3 separate regions of the Homo sapiens genome follow, and all the other regions are linked to region 3. The links come from fine-mapping of genetic effects on gene expression. A gene starts in region 3. Each other region holds a variant in brackets. All regions are shown on one strand. Distances are from middle to middle. Region 1 overlaps ANO7 (anoctamin 7). Region 2 overlaps FARP2 (FERM, ARH/RhoGEF and pleckstrin domain protein 2). Region 3 holds the start of ANO7 (anoctamin 7).

Region 1 (5,992 bases), 25 kb before region 3:
TCCACCCGCCCAGCCCCCCGCATTGTTCCTTAAGGCTTTAGGGGTAATGGGCTCCTCCCGGAATTGCAAAGCAGTGCCAAGAGCTCTGCCAAGGTTGGGAGGGAGTGGACGAGGACGACTGTGGTGTCCCAGGGAAAGCAGATGTGGAGGCCCACGTGTTGGGTTCGTCCTACACAGGGGCATGTGTGCATGTTGCCTTATCACACTGTCACTCATCCGTGCCCTGCTCCTGCCAGGCACAGAGCTCCACCCTGCACCTTATGGTCTTGTGGTTTCACAGCACCAATAGTTCCAAGAGGCAGGGCCATCTCTCGGGATGTGGCATGGCCACCATCTCCCAACTGCTATTCCTGGTGGCCCAGAAATGTCAGTGCTGATTTGGGAGCTGCCTTCTGGGGGCAGATCAGGTGTTCAGGGGGCGCTGGGAGGGCGTTCAGGTCAGTCTGGCCTTGAGCGGGAGGCGAGGCCCTGGGCAGCCTCTTTGAAGGACTCTGGCTATGGGAGCCTTGTGGTCAGGGTGTCCCTGGCAGGGGCATCTGAGGCAGACGTGTGTCTGAGGATCAACCCTGGGACCTCCTTTTCCTCCTCCCTCTTGTGCTGCGTTGGGGCCTGGGGATGCCAAGGAATACTCTGGCCCAGCCGCAGCATCTCTGAACGGACAGAGCCATCACCCCAGCCTTGGGTCCAGGAGCCCAGACCCCCTCCCCAGCCAAAGCTGGTCCCAGGGGTAGCGTCTCCCACAACTACAACCCAGAAGACCTCAGCCAGCCACAGGGCAGCTGCAGGGCGGGCAGCCCAGAGCCCGGGGCAGACGGCCGGGCACACTCCCCCTCCCCCTCCCCAGGCAAGGTGCCTTCCCTTCACCTCTTCTCCCAGCTAGGGCCGGGCTGGAGGCTGCTACTGCCAGGTGCTCTGGGGTCCCTCGGTCCTTGGATGCCACCCAGGGAGGAGTGGGGGACTCACGGGATGAGGACCTCCTGCATGTTGTTGATGACCTGCTTGCCCACCATGATGACCAGGAGCTCCTGTGCCAGCTCGATCAGGCAGCCTCCAGCCGCGCACTACGGCAGCAGGGCTCAGGTTAGCTGGGAGAGGGGGACCAGCCACTCACCCACGCATCCCTTCTTGTCTCAAAGCTGGCCCTCATCCCGGCCCCCACCTCCCTCCTGACATGCCTTGGGCACCTGGAGGGTTGCAGAGATGCTCCCACCATAACACTCCCTCCCGACCTCACAGGAGCCCCCAGGTCCAGCTGGAAGACTGCATTGGAAAGCTGCAGGGGGCACTGCTATATGTACCTAATGGCACCCCAGTTTTCCTTTGGAGACCCACAAGGGGTTACATGGGGCTGACTGTAGCCTCTGGCTTCAAGACAGACCCACGAGGCAGGCCCCACCAATCGGTGACCCAGTTCGAGCCAGTGGGAGGTGGAGTTCCTGGGAACACGTGCCTTGCAAGGGGTGCTAAGTCCGAGAGTGTCGGCCGCACTGCAGGGCACCTTCCCTCCAGATGGGGATAATCTTTCTGAGAACACAGGCAATGCTGGGAATAGCAGTGCAGCATTTTTAACACCTGGATCATTCATACCTAAGCCCGCGTAGCCCTGAGCGTTTTCAGTACAGGAGCCAAGAAAACTCCCTGCAGCCTCCACCTCCTGGGTTCAAGCAATTCTTCTGCCTCAGCCTCCCGAGTAGCTGAGACTACAGGTGCGTGCCATCACGCCTGGCCAATTTTTGCATTTTTAGTAGAGACGGGATTTCACCATATTGGCCAGGCTATTCTCGAACTCCTGACCTCATGATCCACCTGCCTTGGCCTCCCAAAGTGCTGGGATTACAGGCATGAGCCACCACGCCTGGCCGAAAACTCCCTTTTTCGTTTAAGCCAGTTTGAGTTGGGAACTTTTCCCACTTAACAATTGAGAGCCCTCTGGCTGGTCCGTTGTGGCACCCGCAGCCACACTCCCCACTCCATCCCCAGCCTTCCCTTTCCCCTCTCACATGAAATGGACACCACCCCTTTGGGGGCAGCCACTTTGCAGTTGGGCTGGCTCATGGCCCAGACCCCATGCGAAGTTTCTCTCCTCCTCCTCCTCTTCCAAAAGGAGAAGAGGTCTTTCAGGCCAGGGGTCACTCAGCAGGGGTCCACTTAGGTCCCAGCCCAGCCCAGAGGCCACCTGTGGATGGCTCCAGATGCACCCACCCTGCTGCCTGCGACCCCAGCTGCTGGGACATGCCTGGCCCTCACCCAGGAGGGGCTGTGCGTCGGGAACAGTTTTGAGGGCTTCTCTACGGTGTCTTGGAGGGGCTGTGGCACAGTGGAGACTACTTCTGGGGTGATGCACACGTCAGTTACTTGCACCAGAATCTCTGTCTTGGGGTCTGCTTTGCAGGGACCCCCGTGACAACAACGCTTCATCCTCCACCAGGTGAACTTCCATTTGCTTTCTGAAAAACCAGGTTCACGCCTGGCTCTCAGAGATACGGAGTAGCTAAGGCTCTTAGAGATACAGTCACAGGCAGAGCCCACTGTGCTGATGGGGAGAGGACAGCTGGCCACAGGGAGATCCCTGACAGCCATGGCGGCAGCACGCCAAGCCTGTGAGGAGGCCAGCCCCTGCGACCCCTGTGTGCCATGAGGAGGCCAGCCCCTGCGGGCCGTGTGCCATGAGGAGGCCAGCCCCTGCGGGCCTGTGTGCCATGAGGAGGCCAGCCCCTGCGGGCCGTGTGCCATGAGGAGGCCAGCCTCTGCGGGCCTGTGTGCCAGAGGCTCTGCGCCCACCGTAATGGCTCACACTTTTCTCAGGTGTGAATTGGGTTAAAATGGGGAAAGAGTAATACGGGCTGGGACAGCTGGGGTGGGGTAGGGTTTTTGGTTTGCTTTTTTATTAATTTTTGTGGCGATGAGGACTCACTATGTTGTCCAAGCTGGTCTCGTACTCTTGGGCTTAAGCGATCCTCCTCCCTCAGCCTCCCTAAGTGCTGAGATTACAGGCGTGAGCCACTGTGCCCGGCCTGGAGTGTTTTGGTGTGGTTCTGAATGGGGCATATCGGGGGTCAGAATAAGTGGTGAAGAGAGGCTGGGAGCCCTGAGTGGTCAGCTGCACAGCTGGCCCTGGCTGGGCGATGGAAATAGCCGGTGGTGGGAGGAATTGCTGCAAATCAAAGCTCGAATGGAAGAATGGAAGTGAGAGGAAGCACACAGCTCATCCCCCAGTCCCGGGCCTCAGGCACACTCACCTCCTCATTGCGGACTCCAAACAAGGTGTGGTAGTTGCCTGGGTATCCCACAAACCTAGGAGAAAGTCAAGATCATGAGCCTTGATGGGATCCTTCCTGTCTCCTCCCACTTCCCTGGGCTCTGGAGGCCTCAGCAGAGCTGCTGCACCTGCCCTGGAGGAAGCACGAACTGTGGCGTAGAGTCCCGGTTGTGAGCTGGGCCTCCTGTGGACCCCCGAGCTGGGTAGGGACCAAGAGGTGGGCAGCCCCT[G/C]TTTGCTCAGAGGTGCCAGGAGGCATGGGCCCCTGTCCCCTGCCTGGGTCTCCGGTTCCGTCCTCCACCTGCCTGAGCACGGCTGGATGACGCCTGGTACCCAGGCAGCGGGAAACATGAGCAGAACTAAGCCGGGACAAGCTGTGGCCAGAGGGAGAGGTGCCCACCAACCTGCCCTTGAAGAAGGCAATGTAGACGGGTGAGGAGTAGAAGTTGACGAACTGGAAGATGAACACCTTGAGGGTGAAGGCGTCCTCGAACTTGGTCTGGGTGCGGTGCATTTCTGTGGCATGGAGAGCCTGGGCTCAGTCCCTGGGGGAGTCACCAGCATCCAACTAGGGGCCCCCTCTCCTAGGACCACCTTGCCACACACGGGTGAGGAAAAGGCCATATCATCCAGATATTTAAAAGAAGGAGACAAAGTGTGACATTTCCGAAGTCACCCAAAAACATGTTGATTAACAGGAGTTGGGAAAATTGATAATACCCTATATCCCAACACTAATAATGAATGTGGTGCACACGGGTGAGTGGTCAGGGGATGGGTCAGAGAAACAGAATAGAGGCTCGGTGCCAAGGCTGCGCAGCGGACTGGGCTCCGGTGCAGGTGCCGGAGGCAGGAGCATCAAAGGCTGAAGGTTACAGGAGGGAAAGAGGGAGGCTCAACACCCCACAGCAACCCCACAGTTGCAGAAACAAATGGGTGGCTCCCCTCAGAGCCCTACCCTTGGCCATCCAGAACCAGGAACCTCTCCCTGAGACACCTGCCACCTGCAAAGGTCTTTCCCTGACACCCACCTTCCCCTGGCCACCCACCAGGAGGCACTTCCTCCTCAGCACTTAAGCCCTCTCCCATTCTCTGTAGCTGTGCAGGCAGCCAGTTCTGTCCCCTCTCCTAGAACCTGGGCTCCAGGGTGGGGCTGCCAGCTTTTGTTCAAGACTATTCACCCCCAGGGCTAGAGCAGGGCTAGTGAGAGGCAGCAGCTTATGGAATGAATAGGTTGGTCGTAAGTGTTTGTCCTCAGGAAATGAGACAGAGAAAAAGACCGATGGGAGAGGAAGGGGGAGGGAAGAACTGAGAGGTGGCTGCCCAGCCCAGCAGCCGATACCCCACACCACCCAACAGAGGCTCAGCGGCCCTATCCTAGAGGGACATCTCCCACCTGGGGGACCTTGCAGCCTGGAGGGGGGCCCTGTGGAGGGGTGAGAACTCTTTGGGTGCTGGAGTGCCCCCAGGGTCTTTTATCTCCAGGAAGGCCCTGCTCACTGCTCTTTTAAGGGGGCCTCTGGGGAGGCTCAGACAACTCCAATCTGTACCACATTTAGAAATAGGGAGCACTGGCTTCCTAACCCAGGGATTGTTTGTGTCCCACCTGGGGTGCCAAAAACAAAAAATAAGAGAAAGAAAACCAGGTGCTGTGGCTCATGCCTGTAATCCCAGCACTTTGAGAGGCCTAGGCAGGAGGATCCCTTGAGGCCAGGAGCTCGAGACCAGCCTGAGCCACACAGTGAGACCCCTGTCTCTATCAAAAAAAAAAAAAATTTCAGCTGGGCACAGTGGTCCAGGTACTGAGGAGGCTGAGGCAGGAGGATCCCTTGAGCCTGGGAGGTCAAGGCTACAGTGAGCCATGATCGTGCCAGTGCACTCCAGCTTGGGCAACAGAGTGAGATCCTGTCTCAAAAGAAAAAAGAAGAAAGAAATAGAAATGAGGGCCATGTGTGTCAGTGAGTGAGAAAGTCACGTTCTGGCTGGCGGCCGGCAGGGTGGGCCCCTGGTCAGTGCCTGGCCGGCCTCAGCCCACTCACCCCATCGTGTCAGGACGTGGGCCAGGGATACATAGATCTTGGAGAGGATGAGGATGAAGACGAGGTTCACTACAGACCCCGTGAGGCTGGCGATGCGAGAGGCCTAACGGGAGACAGGCCGTCAGAGCCGGATGAGGGGCCGCTCAGGGCCCCCCGAGGCAGGCAGCAGAGGCTCACCCAGGCTGCGAGAAGGGTGTTGCCCGACCTGGACACCACGATGGCCATGATGGCACGGTACAGGATGATAGACACGAGGCACATGACCACCACGGCCACCTGCGGGGGCAGGGAGGCCCGTGAGACCCTTCACGGTGTCTTGGGCACCCCAGCACCCTCAGGCCATGGCCCCCGACAGCTCTTCTAGTCCACTGCTGGCCCCAGCACTGCCACCTCTAGGAAGGCCCCTGCCTCCAGCCCCGGCTGTGCTCCCAGGCTATGTCCTTCCTGATGAGTTGCTCAGGCAGAGGTGGGGTGGGGTTAGAGTTAGAGGCTGGGCCACATCTGGGTGTCAAGGCAGCCACTGTGAGTGTTGGAGAGCCATCCCATCCCAGGAATTGGGGATTCCTGACATCTTGGCAGGGGAGTGAGAGGTCCTATTAGGAAGCCCCTTTGGCTGGAAGGCAAGACAGGGTGCAGTGAATGGCCCTGCTGGGGTGCCCGCCTCTCTTTTCCTTGAAACCAACCCCCTTGCTTGAAA
Region 2 (5,992 bases), 220 kb before region 3:
TATCACTTCCATCCAGAAAAACCCACCAGTGTCAAGTCTTAGAGAAATCAAAACAAGATGAGATGAAGGCCATGGGTGCCAGGCGATTCCCAATGCCCTGACACAGGCAGACACTGTTAGCCTCACACAGTCCCCTCCTCCTCTACCACAGCACAGTGTCTTCCCCGTAGAGGACTCTTTCTGCCACACTGCAGAGACACTGCAGCAGCTGACACCCCCCCAATAGCCACCCCATCCTGCTCAGTAGCATCCTCCTCCCCCAGACCCTGATGTCTTTTCCAGCACCTTTTTTTTTTTTTTTGAGACGGAGTTTCACTCTGGTGCCAGGCTGGAGTGTAGTGGCACGATCTTGTCTCACTGTAACCTCCACCTCCTGGGTTCAAGCGATTCTCCTGCCTCACCTCCTGAGTAGCTGGGACTACAGGTGCCTGCCATTAGCCCAGCTAATTTTTTGTATTTTTAGTAGAGATGGGGTCTCACTATGTTGGCCAGGCTGGTCTCAAACTCCTGACCTCAGGCAATCCACCTGCCTCAGCCTCCCAGGGTGCTGGGATAACAGGCATGAGCCACCGTGCCTGGCTTCTTCCAGCACCTTCTAAAGCAGCACATCGTGCAGGTGTGAAGGTGCTTCAGGCCAGGGCACCTGTGTGTCTGTGTGTCTGCCAAGCTGCCTCTGGCAGCAGCTGCACATCCTGAGGCCAGGAGCAATGGTCCTTATGTTAGAATCTTGCAGAAGTCACGACAACAGTCCTTTCTCGTTACACACTCTTTAGTCATTACTGTGGTGACAATGTGTTGACAGACAATTGTGATGACTTACACGTGCTTCTGATGGAATTCTAGTATCTTCTCAAGGCAGTGCTGCTGGCCAGGCAAATACTCGTTCACTTTGAGGTGCTCTCGGTCCAGCGTTTCATCGTAATCTCCTATTTCCGCTGAGATAGGTTAAAAGTAAGTAACTAATTTTTAAATAAACTACAAGCATTTGTATGTGTCATTGCATACATTAAAAGTAAAAAAAAATTATCCCAAATTTGTAGCAAAAGAATATATCCCTAAAAAAGCAAGATTTTTTATTTAATTTTTCCAAATATTTTATGCTGTTAAAAGGCAAATATAATGGGAAGTGAAGAGGATTTCTTGAAGAACAAAGGCCTGATTAGTAACTCCAGGGAGGCAAACATTGATGAGTTTAATGTGTTTATTATTATTTTGACACAAGGTCTCGTTCTGTTGACCAGGCTGGAGTGCAATGGTGCAATCACTACTCACTGCAGCCTCAACCTTCTGGACTCAAGCAATCTGCCCGCCTCAGCCTCCTAAGTAGCTGGGACTATAGGTAAGCACCATCATGCCCAGCTAATTTTTGTATTTTTTGTAGAGATAAGGTTTTGCCACATTGCCCAGGCTGGTCTCAAACTCCTGGACTTAAGCAATCCTCCTGCCTTGGCCTCCCAAATGTGCTGGGAATATAGGCATGAGCTACTGCACCTGGACTACTATTATTTTTAAACTACACCTTAAACCTAAATTGTCTCAAGATTATCATGATCAGGCTGAAGTATTTTATTTATTTTAGGATAATGTATTTTAAATGATTTTTTTCCTTCAGACCTTCTCAAATTTCTTGATGAATAATGTCTCTGTCTAATTTCATGTATTTTAAGGCCACAATGTCTTAATAACATAAAGTTCAATAATTTAAAGCAATATGCTTTTATTTTTAGACAATCTCATATTCACAGAGAAGTTACAAGCACAGTACAAGAGTTTTTTCTCCTTTGAGCCATTTGAGAGTGAGTTGCTAACATGTTACTTGCCATACTTCAGTATGGACTTCCTATAAACTATGACATTTGATACGGTTTGGCTGTGTTCCCACCCAAATCTCATCTTGAATTATAACTCCCACAAGTCCCACTTACTGTGGGAGGGACCCAGTGGGAGGTAACTGACTCATGGGGGCGGATCTTTTCCGTGCTGTTCTTGTAATAGTGAGACTTTCATGAGATCTGATGATTTTACAAGGGGCCATTTCCCTGTACAAGCCTCTCTCGCTGCCGCCACATCTCTATCAGCAGTGTGGAAATGGACTAATACAATATTCTTACCCGCAGCCTTGTAAAACTACCCAGATCAGGAACAGGGCCACGATCTGAGGCTCCATCCCAGATGTGGACCCTAGTCATATTTTACCAACTGCCCAATTATGTTTTTTATAGCAAAAAGATCTGGTTCAGTCATACATTGCATTCGTTGCCATGTGTCTACCTGAGAAGTCTTTCAGCCAAATGAGTAAGAACCAAAGTCACTTTGAAAACTTTTATTAATCAACACGTCCCCTGGTGGAGGATAGCAAACCCATAATAAAATTTATTATTTGAAGAAGGTATGTCTGGGGAAGGACCAAGGAAGCTGCAAATAACCTATATACTTATTAATTCCTAAAATTTTGGAACTTTCTATGTCATATTTCCTGGATTCAAATTTCAGAAACATTAGTTCTGTGCTAGCTGTGGTCCCACCTCTAGTCCAGGAGCAATGTGGGTATTTCTGTTTTTCTATTCCCATCGCTGGGGGCTCGGCAAGGTGCCAGAACCTCCTCTTACACTTCTCATGGTTTATTTTTGAAGTAACTATAATTCTTGACACAGTTCTGAACCATCTCTTGATCTGTGTGAGATACTGAAGAAATGTCTTCTTTTTCCTTCATGGCTAA[T/C]GCTTTACTAATCTGAGAGGACTGTAACTTTTATCCCAGTGAGGCCCTTTCCAGGGTTTGCTCAGAGTTTGGTTTATATTCTGACTCTTAGACTGAATATGCATTGCTGGTAAAATGCACAAAGGCATAAATGAGAGACAACCCAAAAGAAGGAACGTGGCTACAGATTTTGGCCTTGGCCTGTGTTTGCTACGTGGAAACTATTTGCCTCAAGGAGTTCCACTTTACAGAAGTTAATCTGTAGCTTATAAAAAACACTGAAGTTGAAACACCTCATTCTATGGTCAGGCTCACTAACTAGGCAAATACATCAGCAACTAATTGTAGTTCTGAGTGCGGGTATATCTGTGCCATGGTCAGTGAATGCTCCCCGCTGGCGGGGAGATACTCACACTGCAGGAGATGGGACGTGAGAAGGGCCGCTGTGGTGTCAGCACAGGTCAAACGCTCTTCCAGCAGGTCTCTCTTAAGTTGCAAGGCAAACAAGTATCTAGAAGAGAGTTCAAAATAAGACAGAGATCAATTCCAAATGTTCTCTGAATGTAACATAGACATGTCTCCACAGCAAGACAGCAAATGAGCCCTGGGAAGTGGCAGTGACCCAACAGTGAGCAAAACGCAAGGCGGTCACGAAACAGCAAAGTCACAAAAGGCCTTTCATGAAACAAACAGTCACCAAGTGAAGGTCAGATGATAAACCAACTCAGCAGACTGAGTCACACACATGGGAGAGCGCAAAGGAAGTGCTGAACACACTAAGGCACTCTGATGTGAACAATAAAAAAAAGAAATTGGCCAGGGGCGATGGCTCCCGCCTGTAATCCCAGCACTTTGGGAGGCTGGGGCGGGTGGATCACCTGAGGTCAGGAGTTCGAGACCAGCCTGACCAACACTGTGAAACCCTGTCTCTAAAAAAAGTGCAAAAACCACCTGGGCGTGGTGTGCACACCTGTAATCCCAGCTACTTGGGAGGCTGAGGCAGGAGAATCGCCTGAACCCGGATGCAGAGGTTGCAGTGAGCTGAGATCATGCCACTGCACTCCATGTTAGGCAACAAGAGCGAAACTCTGTCTCGAAAAAAAAAAAAAAGAAAGAAATTAGCCTTTTCAGGCATACCATCTACCCACATATAATTACACATCTGCAGCCATACCTTCAAGGAGGAAGGTCACAAATTCACATTACTTCTGTTAGTCACATAAAACTGCACTCACAGTTTTGGATGAAATAGGAGAAATATCCAATGAAAACACAGCTTAAAGCATGGCTGTGAAATTTTTTAACGGATTGATAATATCTGGTCTTGGCTAGGATCTGAGAAACAGGCACTTTGGAATACCATTAGTGAGAATGTAATGAGAGAAGGCAATTGAAAATATTTATATGTTCATTTATTCCATCAGCAAATAATTACTGAGCGTGAATTACGTTCTAGGTACTGTTCTGGGAGCTGGAAATGCAAAGGTAAGCAAGACCAACCCCCTGTCCCTAGTGGAATTCATGCCCCAGTGCACAATATTAAAATTTACCACATTCTCTTAAAATTCAGGATGTACATACCCTTTAACACAGCAATTCCATTTCTACAAACTTTCCTAGACTAATATTCCCATAGTTCACAAAGGTATGTGAACAATGTTTCTCTGCAGCATTATAACAGAGAAATATTGGAAATATGGATGAATATGAGAATGATGAAATTATGTTACAGCCTAATTTAGTATATTTTTATATACGATATGGAAAAATGTCCACAGCATGCTTAATAAGTGGGGGGAAAAATCAACCTACAGTTCAATACGTATCATTTGATATTGTTTTATAACATTTGTAATTTCTTTAAAGTTCTGATATCTATGTGTTTATTGCACATCTATGCTTTCATCTGAAAGATACGTACTTATGCGGAGAATAAGGTGCTGAGTAAATGGAGAACTTTTACTTTTTACTTATCTTTGTTTACTTATTTTTTTTGAGACAGGCTCTCACTCTATTGCCCAGGCTGGAGTGCAGTGGCGCTACCACAGCTCACTGCAGCCTCAACCTCCTGGGCTCAAGTGATACTCCTGCCTCAGCCTCCAGAGTAGCTGGACTACAGGTGCATGCCACCATGCCTGGCTAATTTTTTGATATTTTGTAGAGATGAGGTCTCCCCATGTTGCCTAGGCTGGTCTTGAACTCCTGAGCTCAACTGATCCCCCCACCTTGGCGTCCTGAAGTGCTGGAATTACAGGTGTGAGCCGTTGCACCTGGCCCTTAGCTTTATTTGGAAAAAAAATTCTTTTACCACAAACATGTACATTTTTATAAACAGAAAAAAGAATCCTCCACATAAATATGGGGGAGAAGGGAGTAACTATAATACTGAGTTATCAGCATGAGTCCTAGAACTTGAGACCCAGGATCCTGAATGAGGGGACACTTTGTTATCCATCATTTTCAGGTATCTATCTATCTATCTATCTATCTATCTATCTATCTATCATCTATCTATCTATCTATCTCTATTTAAAAGTGATTCCCTCAAAAGAGACTTTTTTTTTGGTAAATGTCAGGCATTTAATACACTATTAAGATCTATGGTCACTCATAAAAATACTTTTTGCCATCTTTGGAGTTTCCTAAACCTTTAAAAATAAGAGGGTGAACTAATGTGGTCTCTCCATTTCCTTGCAGCTGACATTCTACGATTTTGTGTTGCTAAAATGATATGCAGAAACCTTTAAAAGAGAGTTCATAAGACATCTGATTCATTTATGAGTACACTTTTAGCCAGAAGGCAAAAAAGTTATTGATACCACTACAACATCATAGTTCTCTTTTATATCTAATTTTGGGTTTTCAGTTGCTTTTTAGGTTATTCCTCTATTCTTCATAATATAATTGATATGTGAACAAATACAAAAAATACAAAGAAAAACCTTCCATAACCTTACTGTCCAGATGAAACAATTGTTAATATTTTCTTTTTTTTTTTTTTTGAGACAGAGTTTCGCTCTTGTTGCCCAGGCTGGACTGAAATGCCAATCTCGGCTCACTGCAACCTCTGCCTCCTGGATTCAACAGATTCTCCTGCCTCAGCCTCCCAATTAGCTGGGATTAAAGATGCCTGCCACCACGCCTGGATAATTTTCTTTTCTTTTTTTTTTTTGAGACGGAGTCTCGCTCTGTCACCCAGGCTAGAGTGCAGTGATGTGATCTTGACTCACTGCAAACTCCGCCTCTCGGGTTCATGCCACTCTCCTGCCTCAGCCTCCTGAGTAGCTGGGACTA
Region 3 (5,992 bases):
ATCCGGGGCTTGGCAGGACTCCCAGCTCTGCAGGCGGCCGCTTGCTGTCCACCTGGCTGGAAGGCATGGAGGATGGAGAAGCATATCAGCATCAGCATCTGCCCTCGACAACTACACCCACCCCGCCCCACCCTGAAGCCGTCCTCGCCTCCAACCCGTCCCCGCCCTGCCCCAGAACACTCAGGACCACAGAAGAATGTTCGGCGGGTGGGTAGGGGGTGGAGGGGGAAGCCCCTCTGCTGTGTGGGGGCACAGGATGCGCAGGCGCGGGGAGCGGCAGGCAGGGCCAGAGGGCACCACCAGCCCTGGGCCTCCAGCCGGCTCCCCTCCTCCTTGGGCCAGGCCCATGGCAAGGGTCAGGTTGGCGGGAAGCATGGCCAGGACCAGGGGTGCCTGCCTTGCTGGCCTCCAGGGGCAGAGGGGAGCCGGACTGCTCCCAAAGGGGCCCTGAGGACAGAGTTGGCCATGGCGACCGAGAGTGTCTGGATGCTTGAGGTGAGAGGCCCTGTGCCCTCCCTGGAGGCTCATCTCAGCTGTGCTTGGGGCGGCAGGAAGGGGTCCCGTGTCCACCCGCAGGCTGCTGGGGCAGACGTGTGGCCCAGGAGAACCAGGAAGAGGGCCCTCCACGGCCAGGGCCTCCCGCATGGCCTTGAAGGCCCGGGACCCAGCCTCTCCCCACAGGCTCACAGCGCATCCATGGCCTCCTAGTGACAAGGTGGAGCCCTACAGATGGCCCTGGGTGCTGCTGTGGCCCTGCACTGACTGGGACTGACACCACAGGGAGGGCCCCGCCCTGGTCTTGCCTTTGCCTGGCCAGGCCCCCCTTACCCTCCTGGAGCTCCTGTCTGAACATCAGTGGGTTCTGCTCGGTTCTCCACAGCCAGGCCAGGCCAGGAGAGCGGTGATCTGACTGTGTGTGTTGAGGACTGGGTGGCGAGGGCTTGGGGGTTGCCGGGGGATGCAGGAGAAACACGGTGATGCCCATCCACCCCCAGAGGCTCTGGGCCCAGGGTGGGGGCATAGACCCAGGCAGGGGAGGACCTCTCAAGTCGCACCACAGTCTCCTGGGTGCTGTTACCTCCGAGGCGTGGGCTGTGCTCCCGTAAGAGCCCCTCTTCTCTGCCTCAGGGGGGCTCACATCGATCAGGACGGTGCTGTCCTCTTCCTGGGCCCGTCGCCGCAGCATCCTGCTCCTGCACCCAGCAAGGCCGGGTGGGGATGGGGGTCAGAGAGGGGATGGGTGAGACCCGTTCCTGGGGCCACCACACTGCCTGCAGTGAGCTCACTTTACAGACTCGACTCGGAGTAGAATGGGGCTGGGCTGGCTCGGCAGACTCTCCTGGCCATGAGCACATGGAGAACCCCCTAGCCAGCCACGAGCTCCAGGAAGAAACCAGTGCCGGGGCGGGAGCGTCTGGCAGGCCTGGCACAGCAGGCGTCTGTCTGTCCATCCAGTGAGTGCCCGTGTCCCCCAGCCCTGAATGCCGTCCACTCTGCCTGGGTACTCAGTGGAGCCTGAGAAGGCCCAGAAAGGTGGGCCTGGAGTACAGACACCTCTCCCTCTCTTATCCGTAGGGTGGAGCCATGTGAGCCAGGGACAGGAAACCCCTCAAGTCGCCTGCCTTCGCTCATGGCCTGAGGACCCAGTGCCAGGACCCATAGGCCCTGAGCTCCCCAGCAAGGCGGGCCTGATGGAGCCCGGCCTCACAACTCTTGGGGGTCCCAGCTTCCTCCCGCACCTTCGCCCCGGGGGTCTCTCTCTGTGGGAGGACAGGTGCCGTGGCTCCTAGTCTTGGGCTGGCAAAACGGGGCCAGGAGCACGACATCTGTGGCCCTGGAAGGAGAGGGTTCGAGCTGGGGCTGGCATTTGGAGCTGCGACGATGACCGGAGGGTGTGACCATGGAGGCGCCGCAGGAGGTCGGAGGGGCAGCCTTCTAGTTCTACCCTTCACTTCACATTAGCGGAGGCCCAGAGGGACAGAGACTGAGCCTGGGCCGCCTGCACCTGCCTAACCCTGAAGCCCGAGCCAGGTCTCAGTGTTAGGACTCGGCCCCGGCCCCAGGCTGGGAGCCTCACTACGGACTGTGGGGTGTTCCTGGAGGAAAGTCCCCGAGGAGTTTCGGCCACCCAGCAGCCCCTCATGCCCCCATCCTTCTGTGGTGGGCAGGCGGGCCCCTCCTCAGAGCTCTCTGCAGAAAGAATGGGGATGCCCCCCACCCCAACGAAGGGACCTGCTCCATGGGGGAGCCCCTGGGCAGGCAGGAAGCCAACCCCAGCTGGGTGTACCCCGTCCAGAGCCGCACTGAGTGTGTGTCCCTCCTCGTGCCCCAAGGGGCTTTGGGGACCAGGGCGGGCCCTGGCACTGCCTCCCCACAGGCCAGGGTGTGTGAAAGTCCCGGTGGGCTGGGGTGCCGCCCTGCCTCCCTAGAGTCCAACGCTCCACCTTCTCCCTGTGGCCCACACGTCTAGGCTGGGTCCCCACCTGGCACAGTGGCTTCCGGAAGAGGTCTCGGAGGTCATGGCCCACCTCTCAGCGTGAGCCTGGTCTCGGCAGTAGAGTCCCGTCCTCACTGCGGGACAGAGGGTGGGGAGGGGTGGCCCTTGGAGCCCCGCCCAGGCAGTGGCAGCCATTCGCATGCCCTCACCTTGCCTGCAAGTGGGCCAGGAAGCAGGCAGGGGAGGTGCCCAGCACAGCTGGCCAGGGCAAGGCTTCCCGGCTCCTGGAGCAGGATCTATCTTTGTTTAAATAGGGGGTGTGGGGCTCAGAGCTGCAGACAGAGGCAGCCCACTTGGCTGGGCTTTCACACACCCGCATGCAAATGCTGCCGTCCTCCTGGGAACCTTATTTGCTTAGAGATTTCAGGGCTGGCATCAGCTGTCATAGTTGCTGCCTTGGAGGGTCTCGAGGAGGTGGGATTCCACAGGAACAGCCACAAGTGCCACCTCTGCTGGAAGCCTTGCCAGGCAGACCTCGTAAGCTCTGTTTATGTGGGGGGAAACTGAGGCTCCTTGAGGTTACGTAGCATGTGCTGAGTGGTGGGCCAGGGTTTCACCCGGGGGCTGGGGAGATTGGGAGACCCAGATCACACTGCTGGCTCTGCTAATGCCTGAGGGGTGACCTCAGGCACATCCCATGCTCAGGGCCCCATCTGCAAAAGGACAGGAGGGGTCCTAGCCTTCCTCCCATCCTTTCCGCCCTCCTCCTCGTCCTCATTCTCCTCCTAGCCCTCCTCTTTCTCCTCCTAGCCCTCCTCCCCCTCCTCCTTTCTCCCCCTCCTCCTATCCTTTCTCCCCACCTTCCCTCTCCTCCTTCTCCTCCTATTGTTTCTCCCCCCTACTCCTCCCTCTCCTTCTCCTCCTATCCGTTCTCCCCTCTCCCTCTCCTCCTATCATTTCTCCCCCCAACTCCTCCTCCTCCTCCTCTTTCTCCCCACTCCCCCTCCTCCTATCGTTTCTCCCCCTCCCCCCCACTTCTCCCTCTCCTCTTCCTTCTCCTCCTTTCTCCCCACTCCCCTCCTCCTGTTTCTCCCCCTCCCCCCACTTCTCCCTCTCCTCCTCCTTCTCCTCCTATCCTTTCTCCCCGCCCCTCCTCTTCCCCTCTCCCTCCCCCTCCCCCTTTCCTCCTTGGTGCCTGGCAGTGTCTGAGAACCTACCACCCGTGCTCCTCGCCCTCCATGCACAACTGCACTGGGGAGCCCCAAGCTCAGCTTGCTGTTCCAGGTGCCCCCTTCTGCCTGTTGAAATCCCTCCAGGCGGACCCTCATCCTGGCTGCAGCTTTCCCTTATACCTATGCCCCTCTGTGCTTGGCACCTCCCAAGGGGCCCTGTTCTTGGACCTGTGTTGTGCCTCGGAACAGCGGGAAGGCCCTGCAGGCCGGGTTCCCTGTCAGCACCAGCAGAGCCTGGGCGGCAGGACCTTGGGGCCCTGGGCCTCAGGGCATCTGCATGAGAGGTCTCTGCTTGGCCAAGCTCAGCCTGCAGGCGCCTGAGGTGGATCCCTGGACGAGGGCTGGACTGGGGAAGTGCTCCAGAAACCAGGAAAGGAGTCGGGAGGCAGGAGGGGAGGGAGGATGAGCGGGGCACCATCTCCCCAAGACCTGTGGAGGGTGGCCTCAGCCTGCCATGGGCACTCTGCAGGGGAGGCAAGACGAAGCGTTTCCTCACCTGGATGCAACTGTAGGCTCTTACTCTGCTCAGTCATTGGCCAAGGACCCTCCCAGGAAGACATGCCACCTCCCAGGAGCTCCTGGCTCTCTGCTCTTGGTGACAAAGTGGCTCTGGTGGCCTCAGGGCTGTCTACTCAAGAGCTTCAGGGCCGGCTGCTGGAGGTGACCACACCCCAGTGGGAGCCCTTTCAGCGACAGTGCACGCACAACACCTAAAGGGGGTTCGGCCCTGAGGAGTGTCTTTCCATTTTTACTTCATACAACTCTGTTTGGGTGGGTGGTTTTTTCAAGTTGTGTTACTTCTGAGGGAAAGGAAGGAAGGGAGGGAGGGAGAAAAGCCGCAACCAGCACAGGGGGCCCGCCAGGTTCCAGGCCTTGGGAAGAGCCCAGGCCCAGAATCTGCTGCACCATCTTTCTTTGGCTGTAACATTTTTTTTTTTGAGACGGAGTCTCGCTCTGTCGCCCAGGCTGGAGTGCAATGGCGCCATCTCGGCTCACTGCAAGCTCTGCCTCCCGGGTTCATGCCATTCTCCTGGCTCAGCCTCCGGAGTAGCTGGGACTACAGGCGCCCGCCACCACGCCCGGCTAATTTTTTATATTTTTAGTAGAGACGGGGTTTCACCTTGTTAGCCAGGATGGTCTTGATCTCCTGACCTCGTGATCCGCCCGCCTCGGCCTCCCAAAGTGCTGGGATTCCAGGCGTGAGCCACCGTGCCCGGCTGGCTGTAACATTTATGGACATACTTAGGGTGTAGTTAGTGGAGGTGGAAGTGGTGGTGAAGAGCCCACACTGAAGTTCAGCCTCTTTCTGAGGCTCCTTCTGAGGCTGGAGGCGCGTGCAGGGCTCCCTCCATGAGGACCCTGGCACTGCGCCCCAGCCACATGGGAGCCCTGCTGGACGGACGGTGGCTGGGTCGCAGGGGACAGACTCTTGGATGCCTGCACTGCCCGCTTTCTAACCTTCCTGTCTGCAGGTGCAGCCAGCAGCCCAGCTTCCTGTGAGCGGCGGCTCCACACAGGCCACTGGCCCCTGGTGTCTGAGTTGCCCACTCTGGCCCTTGGCCTGCGTTTCCGTCAGGATTCCTGTCTCCTTTATTTGATGTGTGGGAGTTCTAAATGGTAAGCCTTGCCAGTTTTAAAAGCTGCAAACGCCTTCTCTTAATCTACTGTTGCCATTATTCAGGTATTATTCATTATTTTTGTTCTATGTAAAATTTTATGTAAATAAACCCATCAAAATCTTGTCTTACAGTTGTGTTTGTGGAGTTTTTTTTTCGAGATAGAGTCTTGCTCTGTTGGCCAGGCTGGGGTGCAATGGCGCAATCTCAGCTCACTGCAACCTCCACCTCCTGGGTTCAAGCAATTCTCTTGCTTCAGCCTCCTCGAGTAGCTGGGATTACAGGTGCCTGCCACCATGCCCGGCTAATTTTTTGTATTTTTAGTAGAGACGGGGTTTCACTATGTTGGCCAGGCTGGTCTCGAACTCCTGACCTTGTGATCTGCCCACCTCGGCCTCCCAAAGTGCTGGGATTACAGGCATGAGCCACCGCACCCGGCCTTGGGGAGTTTTCTCTACTGCTAGCTCACATATCCGCCTTCCCACATTCTTTTTTCTTTTTTGGGGGTGTGAGACAGGGTCTCACTCTGTCGCCCAGGCTGGAGTGCTAGTGGCGAGATCTCAGTTCACTGCAACCTCTGCCTCCCGGGTTCAAGCGATTCTGCCACCTTAGCCTCCCGAGTAGCTGGGACTACAGGTGGCTGCCACCACGCCCGGCTAAGTTTTGTGTTTTTTTAAAGTAGAGATGGGTTTTCACCGTGTTACCCA

The links. PIP is the estimated chance that this variant, and not a neighbour inherited with it, causes the effect. A credible set is the group of variants that fine-mapping cannot tell apart.
Region 1: its variant is the best candidate, but not a certain one, in a credible set for the expression of ANO7 in esophagus mucosa (GTEx, PIP 0.72).
Region 2: its variant is the best candidate, but not a certain one, in a credible set for the expression of ANO7 in substantia nigra (GTEx, PIP 0.83).

Annotation. Positions count from the first base shown.
Region 1 is chr2:241,209,874-241,215,865 of GRCh38, reverse strand. ANO7 (anoctamin 7) reads right to left here. Exons shown (of 25, transcript NM_001370694.2): 14 at 5,473-5,571; 15 at 5,296-5,398; 16 at 3,661-3,772; 17 at 3,240-3,294; 18 at 964-1,061. Among named protein-coding and RNA genes, the nearest start is that of ANO7, 24 kb to the right of the region's middle. RefSeq lists an enhancer at 2,207-2,766. The variant G/C (reference allele first, on the strand shown) is at 3,490.
Region 2 is chr2:241,408,250-241,414,241 of GRCh38, reverse strand. FARP2 (FERM, ARH/RhoGEF and pleckstrin domain protein 2) reads right to left here. Exons shown (of 27, transcript NM_014808.4): 6 at 3,112-3,209; 7 at 821-935. Among named protein-coding and RNA genes, the nearest start is that of FARP2, 55 kb to the right of the region's middle. The variant T/C (reference allele first, on the strand shown) is at 2,720.
Region 3 is chr2:241,185,258-241,191,249 of GRCh38, reverse strand. ANO7 (anoctamin 7) reads right to left here and starts at 2,573. Exons shown (of 25, transcript NM_001370694.2): 1 at 2,484-2,573; 2 at 1,079-1,193; 3 at 1-56. The coding sequence starts at 1,186. LOC105373971 (a long non-coding RNA gene) reads left to right here and starts at 2,828. Exons shown (of 3, transcript XR_924064.3): 1 at 2,828-2,974; 2 at 5,142-5,286. RefSeq lists enhancers at 1-500, 501-1,001, 1,935-2,618, 2,619-3,303, 4,499-5,021.